2 linked regions of the Homo sapiens genome follow. The protein of the gene in region 2 purifies or fractionates together with the protein of the main gene of each other region. This does not show direct contact. Each region holds a gene or a part of one and is shown on either strand. Other genes may lie near its edges.

The links.
Region 1: the proteins of C1QTNF9 (region 2) and DHRS4 purify together in Homo sapiens (affinity purification with mass spectrometry; 3 studies listed by BioGRID and IntAct, with this or other methods). This does not show direct contact.

Annotation. Positions count from the first base shown.
Region 1 is NC_000014.9:23,959,251-23,964,253, forward strand, and holds part of DHRS4 (dehydrogenase/reductase SDR family member 4), read left to right. Parts: intron 1-651; coding exon 652-753; intron 754-5,003. UniProt on the Homo sapiens protein: NADPH-dependent oxidoreductase which catalyzes the reduction of a variety of compounds bearing carbonyl groups including ketosteroids, alpha-dicarbonyl compounds, aldehydes, aromatic ketones and quinones.
Region 2 is NC_000013.11:24,312,072-24,317,074, forward strand, and holds part of C1QTNF9 (complement C1q and tumor necrosis factor-related protein 9A precursor), read left to right. Parts: intron 1-2,822; exon of another isoform or gene 2,823-2,906; intron 2,907-3,910; 5' UTR 3,911-3,932; coding exon 3,933-4,098; intron 4,099-5,003. UniProt on the Homo sapiens protein: Probable adipokine. Activates AMPK, AKT, and p44/42 MAPK signaling pathways.

The DNA.
Region 1 (5,003 bases), on a different chromosome or scaffold from region 2:
GTGGGAAGAAAACACTGCAAAAGAAATAGGGCCAACTTCCTGGTGGGTCGCGCCTGTAACACTTTAGGATACTGAGGCAGGTGGATGGCTTGAGCCCAGGAGTTCCAGACCAGCCTGGGCAACATGGCAAGACCCTGTCTCTATAAAAAATACAAAAATTGCCCGGGTGTGGTGGCACGCACTTGTAGTCCCAACTACTTGGGGGGCTGAGCCAAGAGGATGGCTTGAACCCAGTAGGTCAAGGCTGCAGTGAGCTGAGAACATGCCACTGTGCTCCAGTCTGGATGACAGAGCAAGACTCCGTCTAAAAAAGAAAGAAGCCAACCTTAAATGGTTAGCGGCAGATCTTAGGGTAGTTTTCAAAAAAGATGTTTTAAGAAATAGAAGTTATTTTGACGATAGTTCCTAAGTAGGAAGATTTTGTTGTCATTGTTGTTGTTGTTTTTAATATAAAGATAAGGTCTCGCTGCATGGCCCAGGCTTCTCTCAAACTCCTCAGCTCAAGTGAGCCTCCCACCTTGGCCTCCCAAAGTGCCATGATTACAGGCATGAGCCACAGCTCCTTGCCCAGAAGGAAGTTTTTATCAACATGGGTAAATGCACCTCCCTTACTTACTGCAGCCCTGGTCCAGAACTTACCCCTCTCTCTAGGCTGTGAAGCTTCATGGAGGTATCGATATCCTAGTCTCCAATGCTGCTGTCAACCCTTTCTTTGGAAGCATAATGGATGTCACTGAGGAGGTGTGGGACAAGGTGAGAGGGGATTAAAGCAGGGGGGCCGGGGGGGGCGCCTTGGAACACATTCAGCACAAACTCCATCTGCTTTTAGAATGCATTTCTCAAGGGCAGTGTAAATGTGAGGACTCTTTGCCACGTGCCACACACCTGGAGCACACCTTGCAAAGGGCGGGTGGGGGTGGCTCTATCCCTGCCCTTCTCATTCGTTTCTGCTACTCCTAGTTCTCTCTGCTTCTATCTGCTCTTCACTAGCCACAGTCTGCTCCTCTCCCCAGGCTTTTTCCCTGGCATGCTCTTCTGCCTTGTTGATTTCCAACAGAGACGTAGGCAGCTAATATGCCAACAACTACAACACTTAATTTACACACCCACCTGTCCCCTTTTCAGCTGACAAAAAGTAATTATTTTTTACGAGTTGGGAAATATTAAATGCTGCTCCTTATTTAAAATACTAATTCTGGTGAAATGACCAGTTGCCACTTTATAACATACATCCTTTAAAAAAATAAAATAAAAACCTATATTATTTTCTTCTTAACTGCAATGTCAAGAAAATCTGAGATCCAGATGTCTAAATTCAAGTGGTAGAATATTGGGTTTTATGTGAAAGTGTATAATTACATTATATTCGTAATATATTTCACACACACTCTTTAATTACAAAGCTTTAATTAAAATATTTGTCTTTGTTTATTAAGGTTAATATTCCCACATGATTGGGAAATGCTAATTTTTATGATCTCCCATGGTTCTGCGTTTTACACTGATGTTGTATTAGTCTGTTTTGCATTGCTATAAAGGAATATCTGAGCTGGGCAATTTATAAAGAAAAGAAGTTTGTTTTGGCTTACGATACTGCAGACTGTACAAGAAGCATGGTGCCAGTATCTGCTTCTGATGAGGCCTCAGGAAGCTTACAATCATGGCAGAAGGAAAAAGGGAGCAAGTGTGTCACATGGCAAGACAGGAAGCAAGAGAGAGATACCAGTCTCTTTTAAACAACTAGTTCTGGCATGAAGTAATAGAGTGAGAACTCACTCACTGCCACAGGGAGGGCACCAAGCCATTCATAAGGGATCCACCCTCATGACCCAAACACCTCACACCAGGCCCCACCTGGAACACTGGTGATCACATTTCAACATGGGACTTAGAGGGGACAAACTTACCAACTATATCAGATGTCATCAAAATTTCTCAACACTAAAGTATCAGGTTGCCAAAATACTATGATTTATTTACCAGTGTTTCATACACATAAAGACCAAACTGCCAAAATGTTCTTCAGTGAGCTAGTTTTTGATTCTAGTTTGAGCTAGTTTGAGAGAAGGCTGGGCAACACAGCGAGACCTTTTCTCTATATTAAAAACAACAACAACAACAATGACAACAAAACCTTCCTTCTTAGGAACTATCATCAAAATAACTTCTCTTTCTTAAACCGTCTTTTCTTCAAAACTACCCAGAGATTTGCTGCTAACCATTTAAGTTTGGCTTCTTTCTTTCTTTTTTTAGACAGACTCTTGCTCTGTCTTTTTTCCTTTTTTTTTTTTTTTCCCTCGCTGTGTCATTGAGGCTAGAGGGCTGTGGTGTGATCTCAGCTCACTGCAACCTCAGCCTCCCAGGTTCAAGCGATTCTTGTGCCTCAGCCTCCCAAGTACCTGGGACTACAGGCATGTGCCATCATGCCTGGCTAATTTTTTGTATTGAGATGCGGTTTCACTGTGTTGCTCAGGCTGGTCTCAAATTCCTGGCCTCAACTGATCCCCACACCTCAGCCCCCCAAAATATTGGGATTGCAGGCATGAGCCACCACACACAGCCAGATTCTGATAGTCTTTAAAATAGAGGAGCATCATTCATGAACAGTCTGAATAGAGACCATATGAAAGTCAGTTTTAAACTAAGTACAGGCACGCCTCAGAGATATTGTGGGTCTGGTTCCAGGCCACCACACAATAAAGTGAATATTATAATAAAGTGAGTCACATGAATTTTTTGGTTTCCCAGTGCATATAAAAGTTAGGTTTACATTATAATGATCATCTAATGGAAGTCTATTAACTGAGCAATAGCATTATGTTTTAAAATATATATACGTATCTTAATTTTAAAATACTTTATTGCTAAAAAAATGCTGACAATCATCTGAGCCTTTACAACTTGTAATCTTTTTGCTGGTGGAGGATCTTGCCTCAACATTGATGGTGGCTGACTTAGGGTGGTGTTGCTGAAGGCTGGGGTGGCTGTGGCAGTTTTTTCAAATAAGACAGCAGTGAAGTTTGCCACATCAGTTGACTCTTCCTTTCACAAGAGATTTCTCTGTAGCATGCAATCCTGTTTGATAGCATTTACCCACAGTAGAACTTCTTTCAAAATTGGAGTCAATCCTATCAAACTCTACCACTGCTTACTCTACTAAGTACCTATAATATTCTGAATCCCGTGTTGTGATTTCAACAATATTCATGGCATCTTCACCAGAAATAGATTCCATCCCAAGAAACCACTTTCTTTGCTTATCCGTAAGAACCAGCTCCTCAGCCATCTACATTTTATCGTGAGATTGTAGCAATTCAGTCCCATCTTCCAGCTCCGCTTCTAGTTCTCTTGCTATTTCCACCACATCTGCAGTTCCTTCCTCTGATGCAGTCTTGAACCCTTCCACGTCATCCATGAGGGTTGGAATCAACTTCTTCCAGACTCCTGTTAATGTAGATATTTTGACCTCCTCCCATGAATCACAAATATTCTTAATGGCATCTAAAATGGTGCATCCTTTACAGAAGGTTTTCAGTTAACTTTGCCGAGATCCATCAGAGGAATCACTATCCATGGCAGCTATAGCCTTACAAAATGTATTTCTTAAATAATAAGTCTTGGAAGTCAGAATTACCCCCGATCCATGGGCTGCAGAATGGATGTTGTGTTAGCAGGCATGAAAACAACATTAATCTCCTTGTACATCTCCATCAGAGCTTTTGAGTGACCAGGTGCATTGTCAATGAGCAGTAACAGTTTGAAAGGAATCTTTTTCTGAGCAGTAGCTATCAACGGTGAGCTTAAAATATTCAGTAAACCATGCTATAAACAGATGTGCTGTTATTCAGGCTTTGTTGTTCCATTTGCAGAGCACAGGCAGAGTAGATTTAGCGTAAATCTGAGGGCCCTAGAATTTTCAGAATGGTAAATGAGCATTGGCTTCAACTTAAAGTCACTGGCTGCATTAGCCCCTAACAAGAGAATAAGCCTGTCCTTTGAAGTTTTGAAGCCAGGCATTGACTTCTCCTCTCTAGCTATTAAAGCCCTACATGGCATCTTCTTCCACTAGAAGGTTGTTTCATCTACATTGAAAATCTGTTGTTTGCTGTAGCCACCTTCATCAATGATCTTAGCTAGATCTTCTGGATAACTGGCTGCAGCTTCTACATCAGCACTCGCTGCTTCATCTTGCACTTTTATGTTACAGAGGTGGCTTCTTAAACCTCATGAACCAACCACTGCTAGCTTCCAACTTTTCCGGAGCTTCTTCACCTCTCTCAGCCTTCAAAGAATTAAAAATTAGGGCCTTTTACTGATTAGGCTTTGGCTTAAGGGAATGTTGTGGCTAGTTTGATCTTCTGTCCAGAACATAAGAACTTTCTCTCCATATTAACAATAAACCTCTTTTGCTTTCTTATCATTTATATGTTCAGAGAAGTAGCACTTTTAATTTCCTTCAAGAATTTTTCCTTTGCATTCACAATTTGGCTAACTGGTGCACATGGTCTAACTTTCAGCCTGCCTCAGCTTTCAACATGCCTTCCTCACTAAGCTTAATTGTTTCTAGCTTTTGATTTAAAGTGAAAGATGTGTGACTCTTCCTTTTGCTTAAACACTTACAAGCCATTGTAGGGTTAATAGTTGGCCTAATTTCAATGTAAATGTGTCTCAGGGAATATGGAGGCCCACAGAGAGGGAGAGAGATGAGAGAAGGGCAGAGCAGTCAGAACACACAACATTTTTCGATTAAGTTGACCTTCTTTTCTGGGTGTGGTTTGTGGTACCCCAAAACAATTATAATAAAACCATGAAAGATCACTCATCACAGATCACCGTAACAGATACAATAATAATGGAAAGGTCTGAAATATTCCAAGAATTACCAAAATGTGACCCAGAGACAAAGTGAGCACATGCAATTGGAAAAATGGCTCGAATTAATGCAGGGTTGCCACGAAACTGCAATTTGTAAAAAAAAAAAAAAAAAAAAAAAAAAAAAAAAA
Region 2 (5,003 bases):
AGGTGAGAAGGGGTGTTGGAGATTACTAGCAACTCCACGAAAGCACTGACAAGGATCAGAGTTGATACCCAGTCACCTTCCCAAGTGATGGTCCACACACAGTTGGAACCAGGATAGTATTTCTTGCATGCCTGCATTGATTCATTCAACAAATACTTGACTGAAAATAAGGAAGTAGAAAAATGCAGTCACCATCTTCATAAAGCTCTAACCCAGGTTGGTGCCTACTAAGTGATCATTAGTCTAGGTGTGGTGTACAGAGTAAGTGGGGACTGGGGAGGACAGTAATTCAGATGAGAGAGAGAGTGGATGATTGCAGGGAAAGATGGGAGACAGAAGAGGCTCCTAGCTCTAGTGCCTTCTGGGAAAAGACCAGACCCAGAAATTAAAAGTCAAGAGTGTAACTGTAGTTGAACTAATGAAACTGAGGGTCCAACCCATAGCTTTGTGAGAGGCACAAATGTAATTTTTTATTTTTCAAAATAACATTAATATAATTTCTTCTATATTCCTTGTGCAAATCCTCAACCTTCTACATTAAAGAAGAGGCTAAATAGGAGGTATAAACTTGCTAAAATTTCTTATTAAAAAATAGTGCCAAGCGGCCGTGTGCAGTGACTCACACCTGTAATCCCAGCACTTTGGGAGGCCGAGGTGGGCGAATCACAAGGTCAGGAAATCGAGACCATCCTGGCTAACATGGTGAAACCCCGTCTCTACTAAAATACAAAAAATTACCCGGGCATGGTAGTGGGTGCCTGTAGTCCCAGCTACTCGGGAGGCTGAGGCAGGAGAATGGTGCGAACCCGGGAGGCAGAGCTTGCAGTGAGCCAAGATCGCGCCACTGCACTCCAGCCTGGGCGACAGAGCGAGACTCTATCTCAAAAAAAAAAAAAAAGAAAAAAAAAATAGTGCCAACCTAGGTGGTGACCACGTCTCTAATCCCAGCTATTCAGAAGGCTGAGGCAGGAGGACCACTTAAGCCTAGAAGTTCGAGTCCAGCCTGGGCAACATTCATGAGACTGTATCTCTATAAACAAACAAACAAACAAACAAATAAAACAGAAATAGTGGCACAACTTACTTTGCTACGTATTTGGGAGAACGCATATTAGTTAATCAAAATCATTTGCTGAAGGTTGTCTACATGCTGTATAAACAAGCTAGATAGACTCTACCTACATCAAATATGCAAAACTAGTGAAATAATTACAGAAGAGTAACCATTTGCTTCCAGGCTGGCTTCTTCTTCCCTGGAGAGCAAATTGGAGTTTATCCTAACCTGACACCTTTATGATCTTCTGATCATTTTATTCCTGGAATAGTTGTACTCCACATTTTGAAAAGTTAAAATGAAAATTATAGAACCCTCAACAAAGTTTGGTTGATGGAATTTCGATTTGACTGCTTCCGGCCACTTCTGAGTTTAGCAAAGGAGGCTCGTGTATATTCTTCATGGAATTTGGCTCCAAGAAAACTCAACTCAATTTCCTGGAATGGAGCGAATTTGTGACTTCGAAGGGAAGCATCTGCATTTCCTTTCCCAAAAATACTCCATTTGCATTAGACTGCTCCCTGTGACATTTCCACCAGATGGCAATACAGTCTTTGGATGACAGAGAGTCTTGCTGGTTTTCAAAATCTCTAGAAATATTTGTGTAGGCACTATAAAAAAGCATTTTTTATAAATGAAAAGCTCCCATAACTGCCCCCCATTCTAAAGCAACCATCTTTATTTGCATATATTCACTTTGAGTTTTTGTCAATATTCATACAGTCGTAAGTACATTTATAATGTGCATGGCATTTTAGTCTACTATCAAAATTCAGCACAATGTATATCATTTACATATTTCTACATGACCTTCATAATTATTGCAGCAGTTACATACTATTACACATAGTAAACCTTTCCCCTATTGTTACATAGTATGTAGTATGCACGTTTTCACCTGTTATAGATAATGCTGCAGGTAATGGCACACAATTGGCACACAGTTTTGGAACATTAGGAAGAATTTTAGGGATAGCAATACAGGGTGAAAGACATAGATGTCTTTTGCTCTTTAACTTTTCCAGAAAGATGTGCAGATTTACATGGCTATCAGCACTGTGAGAGGATCTGGGTTCTGACCAGTTGCACTATGCCCACGTTTTTGTTTTACTTCATTTTTTTAAATCCTAAAAGTCAGGTACAGGGTCTTTAGCCTGTAATACTAGCACTTTGGGAGACTGGCGGGAGGATTACTTGAGCTCAGGATTTCAAGACCAGCCTGGGCAACAGAGTGAGACCCAGTCTCTCCAAAGAAAAAAAAAAAAAGAAAGAAAGAAAAATAGGCAATGGCTCATGCCTGTAATCCCAGCACTTTGGGAGGCCAAGACAGGCAGATCACCTGAGGTCAAGAGTTTGAGACCAGCCTGGCCAGCATGGTGAAACCCCGTCTCTACTAAAAATACAAAAATTAGCTAGGCGTGGTGGTGGCGCCTGTAGTCCCAGCTACTTGAGAAGCCGAATTGCTTGAACCTGGGAGGCAGAGGCAGCAGTGAGCAGAGATCGGCCATTGCACTCCAGCTTGGGCCACAAGGGCGAAACTGCATCTCGAAAACAAAACAAAACAAAACCAAACCCAGGTGTGGTGGTGCATGCCTGTAGTCCCAGCTACTTGGGAGGTTGAAGCAAGAGAATCGCTTGAGCTGGGAGGTTGAGACTACAGTGAGCTGTGATTGCATGACTGTACTTCAGCCTGCGTGATGGAGCAAGACCTTGTCTCCAAAAATTATATATAAGGAAAGGACTTGAAAATGCATTTCTCCCGAACTAGGTGATGTTTCCGTGTGTGTGGCCCTTCTTCACAGTGGCCTCCTAGAAAAACAAGACCCTGACTCAAAGAACACCTCTCACTACAGTAAGACTTCTTGGAATGCTTTACTTTTTTAAAAATTTAATTTAATTGTTTAATGTGGTAAAAAATATATAACATAAAACGTAAAACTAACCAGCTTAACCATCTTAAGGGCACAATTCAGTGGCATTATGTACGTTCTCTTTGTTGTGCAACCATCACCACCACCCATCTCCAGAACTCTTTTAAAATCTTCCCAAACAGAAACTCTGTACCCATCAAACAACTCCCATTTCCTTCTCTCTTCACCTCTGGCAACCTCCATCCTACTTTTTCTTTATATGAGTTTGACGGCTCTAGGAACCTCTTATAGGTGAAATTATCCAGGTCTGTCTTTTTGTGACTAGCTGGTTTCACTTCGCATAATGTTCTCGAGGTCCATTCATGTTGTAACATGTGTCAGAATTTCTTCTCTTTCTAAGGCTGAAGAATATTCCATTGTATGGACCTACCACATTGCATGTATCTATTTATCCACTGAGGGACCCTTGGGTTGCTATGGAAAATAATGCAACTACGAACATGGACATCTGTTCCAGTCCTTGCTTTCAATTATTTTGTGTAGATGCACAGCAGTGGAATTGCTGGATCAGATGGTAATGCTATGTTTGCTTCACTACTTGGAATGTGCCTTTATGCATATCGTGATAAAATTTGATCTGTACGACAGTCCTGTGAGATAAGTAAGCATTGATCTCTGGTTCAGAAAAGTGATTTCTTCAAAGTGAAATGATGAACGGAAGAGTATCCTGACCTTAAACTTGGCTTTTTAAATTGCCCGTTCACCTTGAAGAGTGGTTCCAATCACAAGTGTTACCTTCCAAGGACAGTGTCATTCTGGTTATAATCAGCTTGCTCCCCTGCCCTGAGCCTTCTGTCCAAGTTTGTGCAGGTGTGGGTCTGGGGCAGGGGACAGCTCATCCATTTCCCACTGCACGGAACAGAGGCTGTGTCCAGGGCCCCAGCAACAAAGATTTCTCCTTTGGGTTTCTGTTTCCCTCTTTCAGTTCAGAGTCTGTCATCTGAACCATGAGGATCTGGTGGCTTCTGCTTGCCATTGAAATCTGCACAGGGAACATAAACTCACAGGACACCTGCAGGCAAGGGCACCCTGGAATCCCTGGGAACCCCGGTCACAATGGTCTGCCTGGAAGAGATGGACGAGACGGAGCGAAGGGTGACAAAGGCGATGCAGGTACTCACCTGACGGCTTCGGCTGCCTTTCAACTTCTCTCTTCATTCCTTTCATCTCATTCACTCATCATCTGTGTGATTTTCCACCTACCCACTCACACCCCATCCATCCATACATACATCAACCCAGCAACACTCACTGGAGCCTGACCCCATTCATCCATCCACCCATCTGCCCAGCAACACTCACGGGGTCTGCTCCATGCCAGACTCTGTGCCAGGTGCTGGTGGAGAGCACAGGGCAAGATCGCCATGACCCCTGCCCTCCTGGGTTCTCTCATCTCTGACACCGCAGAACATTTTCAGTAGTATACGATGTCATGGATCCTCCCATCTCAGGTGACAGGTATGATGGATTTTTGGCAACAAAAGGCTAATAGAGAGATCTGATCACGAATTATTTGGCAGCAAGCACCCAGCTGCAGTGCAGGTGAGAGCTAATACCGCATCATGCCATGAAGCAGGAGATGCGGAGTGACAGATGACACAAAAGGAGACGAGAATCTGAAACCATACAGCTGCTGCTTATGCATCTATATGACCTAGGTTGGGACCCTGTCCCAGGGTCTGGGGATCTGGGGGACAGGATTCAGCCTCTGGGAGGGAGATTTGCCAAAGCTGAGAAGTCCGAGTGGTTTCCATAACAACAACCAATAGACTTGGTTTCCGAATGGGGTACCATTCTTGAGGCCTGGTCTTGACCATAGGGTCACATATCTAAGGCATATGCAGAATGATCCATCTGGGTTAAGGGCACAGTTCAGTGGCATTACAAAAAAATATATCAAAACTTCTATGGACCTTTTTAAAGATAAGTTTGTGTTTCTAACACATCTCAGCTTATGGCATTTGGTGGCCTGATGATGTTTTGAGTGGGCTGGATGAAGCCAAGGGTCACCAGGAAGC